Linked DNA regions of Homo sapiens. The protein of the gene in region 1 interacts with the protein of each later gene in a pairwise test. Each region holds a gene or a part of one and is shown in the gene's direction. Other genes may lie near its edges. The genes, in order: TMEM253 and RAPGEF5.

Region 1 (4,521 bases):
CTTCTAGAGTCTTCTGGCGCAGTCTCCTCTTATCGTCAACAACAAGAAATAATAATAGTGATGATGATCATAGCCACTAACATTGAGCACTTGTGTACCAGGTACTGGGCTAAGCTCTCTTCCATGCTGAAAGCAACCCCTTGAGACTGGTATTATTAACTTCCTTTTATAGATAAGGGAACAGAGAGATTAAGCAACTTGCCAAGGGCACCTAGGTAGATCTGGGATTTGTTTTGATCTATAGAGTATATTTGGGCCCAGCTGGTTCTGCTTCCGACTGTAGAAATGTGTCCCCAGCTTCCTTCTGAATAACACTTTTAGTGTATGGGCATCAGACTTATCGGTGTGACCTCATCAGCACCACTAATAGTTATTAAACACCCACCCTGAATCAACAACTCTTCACAGTCATATTGTTAGCCCCCTTTTATCAGTGAATAAACTGAGGTGCGAATAGGTAGAAAAACATATCTATCAGGACAGACACAGTGGCCCACACCTGTAATCCCAGCAGTTTGGGAGGCCAAGCAGGGAGGATGGCTTGAGCCCAGGAGTTTGAGACCAGCTTAGGCAACATTGTGAGACGACCCTGTCTCTACAAAAAATTTAAAAATTAGCCAGGCATGGTGGCATGTGCCTGTGATCCCAGCTACTTGGGAGACTGAGGCAGGATGATTATTTGTGCCCAGAAGGTGTTGGCTACAGTGAGCCATGATCATGCCACTGCACTCCAGCCTGGGTGACAGTGAGCCCCTGTCTCAATAATATAATAATAATAATAATAATAATGTATCCAAGATCACACAGATGGAGAAGCAGCAGAGCTAAGATTCCAGCTCAGGTCTGTCTGGCTATGAGGCACCTTCTCTCTCAAAAATATTAATTGTTGCAATAGCATCCTTCCCAAGACTCACTATTTGAGGACCATGAGATAGATAGATAGATAGATAGATAATGTCCAGTTGCAGGTTATCATTGAATCAAAAACAATCCCCACCATAAACAGGGTCCCCCCCATCCATTGAGTCAGTGTTCAGTTCAGAGTAAAACCTTCAAGAAAGAAGGAAGGGAGACTGTCCAGAAAGTGAGAGGCAAGAAAGCCCCTGGAATTCAACCTTACCTGGTCTGGGGGCAAAGCTGCAAGTAGTAATGACAGGGGACCAATCCAGACAGAAAGTAGGATCTCTAGGGAAGGGCACATAATTTGAGGAGGAAGCCAAAGAAAGGAGTAAGATCATATGGAAATGAGGGGGAATTGAGGTCCAGAGTGATAGTGTCCATGGGGATGAGGTAAGTGAAACCAGAAAAGGAACCCAGGATGGGCAGAAATGAGGGTAATGAGAAATGGGAACAGAGTGAGGTCGGGCTAGACATCTTGTGGAGTGAACTGAGGCCGGTATCTACCCAGGGCCACTCCCTAGATCCTTAGGCCTTCATAGAAACCTTTGCCCCACCACACCCCATCCCTGACAGCCTTCCTCTGCCAGGACAAGTTTGTCGTCTGCTCTGAGCTATCAAGCCCCTTAGGAGACCTAGGACCCAGCTGGGTCCCATCCCTTTGGAGTAGCTGCTTCAGACTAGGTAGGTGTGAGGACCTGGACCTCAAATCCCTGGATATTGGGAGTGGGCAGAGGTGTAGCTGAAAGATACGTTGTTGCATGTCCTGTCTCCTAATAGACAGAACCTATAACGCATTTTTCCCAGCCTAGGAAGCACCTAATTCTTGTGGGCAAAGGAGCCATGGAAGATAGAGCTGGTGAGCAAGAGCAGGAGAGACACAGCCTTCGTCTGGAAAAGCTACAACACTGGGCAAGGCACAGGCAGAGTGGGCACCTCTTGGTGCTAGCGGTGAGGCCAGGCTACCCCATCCCAGGTCTCAGCATGTCCACTTCTACCCAATTCAATTCCATCCATCCATCCATCCATGTTAAGTGAGCACCTACCATGTGCCAGAAACTGAGCTAGGTTCTGAATGGGAGGAGGGTAGAGGAAAACATAGAAATAAACAAGGCAAGACCCTTAATCTCCCAAGTAGCTTCCATCTTGTGGGGGAAAACATACAGGTAAGTAACTAAACTACAATATGAGGCAGAAAAAATTAAATGATACTTAATTTTTAATGATCACGTCCTTGCTCTGGGTTGACTGCTTTCCTCCACCCTGCATTCAATCCCATTTCCTGATCTCTAAAGAGGTAGGAGTTACGAGAAGGGAGGGAATCCCTGACAGTTCCTCCCCAATTACCCTACCCTTACCCCCAGGTGAGCCAGCTATGGCTGGCAGTGGTTGTGGTGCCCCTTGCTGTCTCAGTCGCCTGCCTGAACTCTGATTGTCACATGGCCACAGCGCTGCCTCTTGGGCCTGGAGCCTCAGTAAGACCCACCACAAGGGAGGGTGGAAGGTCCCAGGGCCCCTTCCTAACGGGACCAGAGCTCAACACTTGCCCTTCTCACCATTCAGGGTCTCCTCACTGGGACTGTCACTCTGGAGCTTCGCAGAGCACCCCGCCTTTGGAAGGTGAGAGGGAAGAAAACGCAGCACTGTCCTCCCACTCCCTAAAACAGACACCTACAACCCTCAGCCTAGGAAGTAAGTGGCTAAGTGTTGACTCATTCTCTCAGCTGTCACCACTGACTGGCCTCAATCACTGAGGAGGAAAGCAAAAAAGTTAAGAGGGCTTATGGCCCTGTTTGGAGGCTGAGAAGCAGAAGCTGAGTTTTGTCTTCAGCTAGGCTGCAAGTGGGGATTGAGGTTGGAATGACTCCCCTAGGCTGGGCAGGGCTGAGCTGGCTCACTGGCAGGTGCGGGCCATGATGATATTCAACACCTTCAACTTGATCTTGGGTTTCATAGTGGTGGTGGTCGAGGTGATGAAGACAGCCTTGGGGCCTGCCCCAACTGCCTCCTCCCAGGTACTGGTCAATGAAGGAGAAGGTGGGAGGATAAGGAGGCAAGAGGAGGTGGGAAGGGAAAAGGGCAGGGGCAAACAGGTGCGGGGTCCCTGCATTCTCAGCCCTGTCTACCTGCAGCATGCTGGCTTGCTGGTGCTGGAACTCAGTGCTGAGGCCTTCACCCTAGGGGGAGTGCTGGTCTCAGTGCACGCCCTATTCTTGCTGAGCCAGAGGAAACCAGGATGCTGCAGGAGCCAGAGTCTGCACTATCAAGAGCTGCAGGAGGTATGGGGGCAGGGAAGAAAGCACGAATAGCTAGCTGCCAACTAATTTTTCCACTGCCTATCCTGGTCAGTGGCACTTAAGGGAAAATAATGGGGCAGGAGAGAAAAGAAGAGGTCCTAGAATGAAACTGATTGGCTTTCTCTGGCTTTGAACATTTCTCCCCTAATGGTGGGTAAGAGGAAACTGGGAATCCAAATGATTGAGGTTAAAAGAGTGGGAAAGCATTAGGAAGCTGCCTAAATATTGGCAGGACTATGGGAAACAGGATAGAAAATTGGGCAGGAGGAAGCAGTTGTTTCTGTCTGGGGTTTCTCCTTTCTCACCTCTACAATTTGCTCACACCTGTCTCTGGTTTTCAGGGCTTCTCTGAGTTGGAAGAGGTTCCTGGTTTGGAGAATGGTCCCACGGTGGCCAGCACAGGAGCAAATGAGAGGGTGGGACAGCGGGAACAGACACGTGCTGCTCTCCTTCCACCCTGAGAGAATGCTCTCCAGACATTCCTGCATCCCACCCCACCAAACTCAGAAGCTTGCTGGGATCCTTCGAGTCCAATAGGAAGTCCGGGAGTGCCTTCAGTTTTCACTCAAAGCAGGCCCTTTTTTCGTTCCTTCCCTGTTAGGGGAAGATACACCTGGACGAGAATATATCCTCACCTCACCACCCTGAAAAGCTGCTTTCTCCCTTGCATCCATATCCTCTCTTCCTGTCACCTCCCCATACAGCTTCACATTTGCCTCATCGCACTTTTCTTTTCTGTCCACCTTTCATAATCCCATCCACTCCAAATCCCGGACCCTGCACACGCCAACTCCCTGAATCCAATTCAGGAGTGCCCCAGTTCCCCTTTCGATCCATCTCCTTTCTACTGTAGCGGAGACTACAAGTCCCAGGATGCCCCGCTAGCCCGTGACCGGCTAGGAAATAAAGAGCCTTCTCTCCGCGGTAGGGGCGCTGTTGGATGTGCTGAGTGACGCGAGGCGGGGAAGTCGGGGCCTAGCCTGGCGCTTTCTCGGACGCGACCACTGGCCCCGCGTTCGGGGAGGAGCCGGGCGGGCGGTCCTGCACTGGCGTGCCGCTCCCCCAGCCACTGCAATAGAGAGCTGGATCTGGGTCCCCAGCCCTGCGCTGGCAGCTTCAGAGACTGGCGAGGGCTCGGAGCTGACGCTTGGCAGAGCTGGGGCTTCCCAGATGCTGTCGCCGCACCCCCTCGCAGGAGGGCCCAGGTCCGAAGTCCTGAGACTTGGAGCGCGCGCGAGAAAGGGGTTGGAGATGATGAGTCAGAAGCGCGGGGCCTTTCTCGTCCCCTCCCCTAGGGCCTGGGCGCTGAAGATGGACAGGCTCGCTG
Region 2 (3,814 bases), on another chromosome or scaffold:
TTCAGGGATAAGTTAACAGAAATCCATTACCACTAGTAAAGACACAGCTTTGTGCATTACATGAGTTAGTTGAGTTTTCATCTCCTATATTGACCAAGATCTGATTTAGGAATATGTGTGGTCCTTATCCATGCTGCCCTGGGCTCCCACAAACCTGGACAATCTGACATCAACTGACATTAACAAAGTTCTTTGTGGGTTGTGTTGCTCAACCCAGGTGCATTATAGGCTTTTTTTGTTGTTGTTGTTTTGTTTTGTTTTTTTTCTGAGACAGGGTTTTGCTCTGCCACCTAGGCTGGAGTGCAGTGGTGTGATCATAGCTCACTATAGCCTCGACCTTCTGGCTCAAGCGGTCCTCCCACCTCAGCCTCCTGAGGAACTGGGATACAGGCACACACCACCATGCTTGGCTAATTTTTTTTTTCCTATTTCTTTTAGAGACTGGGGGTCTCACTACGTTGTAGGCTATCTGTTACTAGGAAAAAATCAAACTGCCATTTGGTTAATATGCCTGAGTTCCTTGGTTCCTCAGTTCAGTCACTTCTAGTTGTGTTGAATTCAGCATGCATACTGGTTAAGACTCTTTGCACTTCTTTAAGACAAATGAGGGAAAGACTAAGTTGTACATTGTGGGAGGGCCCTAACTACCTCTTAAAAATCAGTAGCAAAGTAATGCACAACCTGAGTTCCTGACAAAACCCTTTAATTTTTTTAATTGTATAACAGAGATTATGAGAGAATGGTATAATGAACACCTGTGCTTCAACAGTTATTAGCATTTTGCCAGTCTTGTTTCATTTATTTTCCCCCTCCATACACTTTTGTAGGGGCTAGTGCATTTTAAAACAAAATTCCGTACATCATGTTGTCTTACTCACAAATTTTTCAGTTTACGGTCCTGATAAGGACATTAAAAACAACAGCAAAACTTTGCCTTTTTCACACCTAAAATATTAATAATTTAAAAATATAATTTCCATATTCAAATTTTCTCAAAGTTGTCTTTTTACTTATGATTGTTGGAAACAGGAGCTAAATGAGGTCCACATATTGTATTTAGTTGTTAGGATTTCTAATTTATTTTATAACAGCTTCCCCTCCCTTTTTTCATGCCAGTGATTTGCAGAAGAGAGTGGTTCATTTGTGCTGTAGAACATCCTACTGTCTGGACTGATTCCTTGTGGTGATGTTTAGCTTGTTCCTCTATTCTGTTTCCTGTGATCTGGCAGTTAGATATAGAGGTTTGATTAGATATAGGTTCAAAGACAAGTAACCTTCATGGATGGTGCTGTGTAAAATCTATTGCATCACATCGTGAGACGCATAATGTCTGGATATCTCTCTTTTTGAGATGGAAAGATTGATTCGTGAGTTTAGGTAGTGTCACTTAGCTGTCTGTCTTCTACTTAATGATTTTAGTATCACAGATCGTTGTAGCCTAGATCCTTTTCATTAGGGGTTGCAAAATGGTGATGATCTAAATCCATCATTCTTCTTGCATTTATTAATTGGAATTCGGTCTGTAAAGAACTTTCCCTCATAAATTATTTAGGTCTCCTGAAATTCACAATGTGCAGGATAGACAGGGAAAAGTCTTAATTTTTTCCTTTTACCAACTATCAGAGTAATGATTTGGTGCTTTAACAATCTCCAGTGAGAACCAGTGAGTTTTTCTTTTTTAAGTGTCATTAAGAACTTATGAATCTTAATGTATTTGTTTCTGTCACTTCAGTCAATATCCTTTTTGGTGCTTGGTTTATCTTTGTCTCCTGTATACTTTTTAAATGGCCAGTAAACTCAAATACCTTTCTTACTTTTCTGACGCAAGATATTCTAAGTGCATCTTGTCCATAGTCTGCTGCTCCCGACCTGAAACCCTGAAATCAGCCATTTTCCCAAGGAGCATTGATGAATTTTTTTTTTTTAAACTGACAATCGTTCATTTCCCCATCTTTTACCTTTCTTAGTGGTTGCATTATTTTTCCCTTGGTCTTAAGCCTCCTACCTTACTTTTTTGTATCTTTTTAAGTCTTTCTCATCAGGTTGTTTCTAAGACTGATATTTTCCCCCTAATAAAAGAACTGATAACAGCTATTCCCTTTTTCTGTATATACTGTCAAAATGCTGGGACTGACTTATTTTGGGCTTTGGCTGCTGTGATGTTTTCTGCAGCCTCTGCCACTGTCTTCAACGTCTTGGTATCTGTTTCATTTACAGCAGCCAGAATGATTCACCAGTTGTGCCAAATTGCTCACCAAAGACCTTCAGTGATTCCCAGCTTTTGGATTGGTCATCAGAAGGGCCTAATTCTCTTTAACCACCCTTCACTAGCCAGGGTTCTTATGGCCTGTGCTCTTCAAAATTGAGAAACTGGGAAGAACAGCTGGTAGCCCTCTGAATGAAGTTCTCTCTTTTTCTTTGCCCAGATGATTCCGTCTCAAAAAGGAACAAAGTATCCCTTTCCCTTTGTACAAGCTGGAGTGCTTTAGCTCTGACTCAATACCCTCCTCTGCTAGAAACTTGACTTTATTGATTGAGAAATAGAAACCGATCCAAATTATATACCAGTATGCCCAATGTATCGCCGTTTTAGGCACCTATTTTACAGGCAAAGCATGTCATTTATTCTTTGTGTTTAAATTGAAATCAATGGCTAACATCATAGCACTTAATTATGTACCATGCATATTCTGATATAAACTTCAACTCTCACTACAAGCCTATGAGCCTATGAGTTAGATGCTGCTATTTGCATTCCACAGATGAAGAAACTGAAACACAGGTGTAATTTGCCCGAGGTTACAGAGTGTGTGCCAGAAGGGAGGTTTGCATCTATGTATCCTGTTTCCGTAGAGCCAAGTCCATGCTCTGAATTAACTTTAGTTTTCCTCAAATGCATTGAGAGGGCAAAGGGTCTATTTACTCTAAACTGTGATAGCCTTATAGTACCTGCTGATATTATCTTACCACTCTGAGAGAGGTAAATAAATGCCATTAATAATGTCAGACTTTTCACTTTTATTTGGGCACACAGAAGCTTATTATTGACATATTGGGTTTAGGGGAAGTGGGGAGAAGCATTGTGGTTATAGGCGAAAGGTAACTAATGTTTACTTAAATTAAAAATAGCTCAAGATCAGCCTGGGCAACAAAGCAAGACCATGTTGCTACAAAAAACAAACAAACAAACAAACAACTAAAATACAAAACAAAACAGCATCCATGTGTCATAAGCAAAATCAGCCATGCTCACTTGATCAAGGTCAATCCAAAAACCTTGTGAATTCACCCAGCTTACTTTGTTCTCATCTGCTTATGGCAGCCAGAAGATAAAGGCCATTAAGAGAGGCATGCATCTGCCAGGAAGGGTGAGTCAGATCAGATATGAGGGACACATAGTGAACTTATTTGAGAAATATTGACTTCACTGCCTCTGCTTGCTGACAAACTACTATCCTGATCCTTGGTGTAAAACTGTGTTAGCTATGGCTACAGATAAAATAAAGCTCTGTGGATGCCAACTTCAAAAATATTTATTTGGGAAGAAGGAAAAGAAACTGTAGATTCATTTAATTTCGTGTGAATTCTAGCAAAGGAACTCAATGGCAAGTTAATATTTTATTTACTTATTTCTTCCTTTCCCTCCCAACCCCCACACTTTGGTGACATAATTAGATCCCAGGAAAAGACACAGGCTGTGGCTTCAGAGTGGGTTTGAATCCCAGTGCTATCACTTATTATCTTTGCATTAGTTATTCTCTGAGCATTCTGAGCCTCAGTGTCTTCCTCTGTAATGACATACACAGTGGATCAG

What was found.
Region 2: the proteins of TMEM253 (region 1) and RAPGEF5 interact in a two-hybrid assay, tested with the Homo sapiens proteins (one large-scale study listed by BioGRID and IntAct).

What each region holds. Positions count from the first base shown.
Region 1 is NC_000014.9:21,099,604-21,104,124, forward strand, and holds TMEM253 (transmembrane protein 253), read left to right. Parts: upstream 1-1,462; 5' UTR 1,463-1,581; intron 1,582-1,704; 5' UTR 1,705-1,740; coding exon 1,741-1,848; intron 1,849-2,261; coding exon 2,262-2,372; intron 2,373-2,460; coding exon 2,461-2,517; exon of another isoform or gene 2,518-2,589; intron 2,590-2,801; coding exon 2,802-2,912; intron 2,913-3,029; coding exon 3,030-3,176; intron 3,177-3,535; coding exon 3,536-3,655; 3' UTR 3,656-4,121; downstream 4,122-4,521.
Region 2 is NC_000007.14:22,350,523-22,354,336, reverse strand, and holds part of RAPGEF5 (rap guanine nucleotide exchange factor 5), read left to right. Parts: intron 1-3,814. UniProt on the Homo sapiens protein: Guanine nucleotide exchange factor (GEF) for RAP1A, RAP2A and MRAS/M-Ras-GTP. Its association with MRAS inhibits Rap1 activation.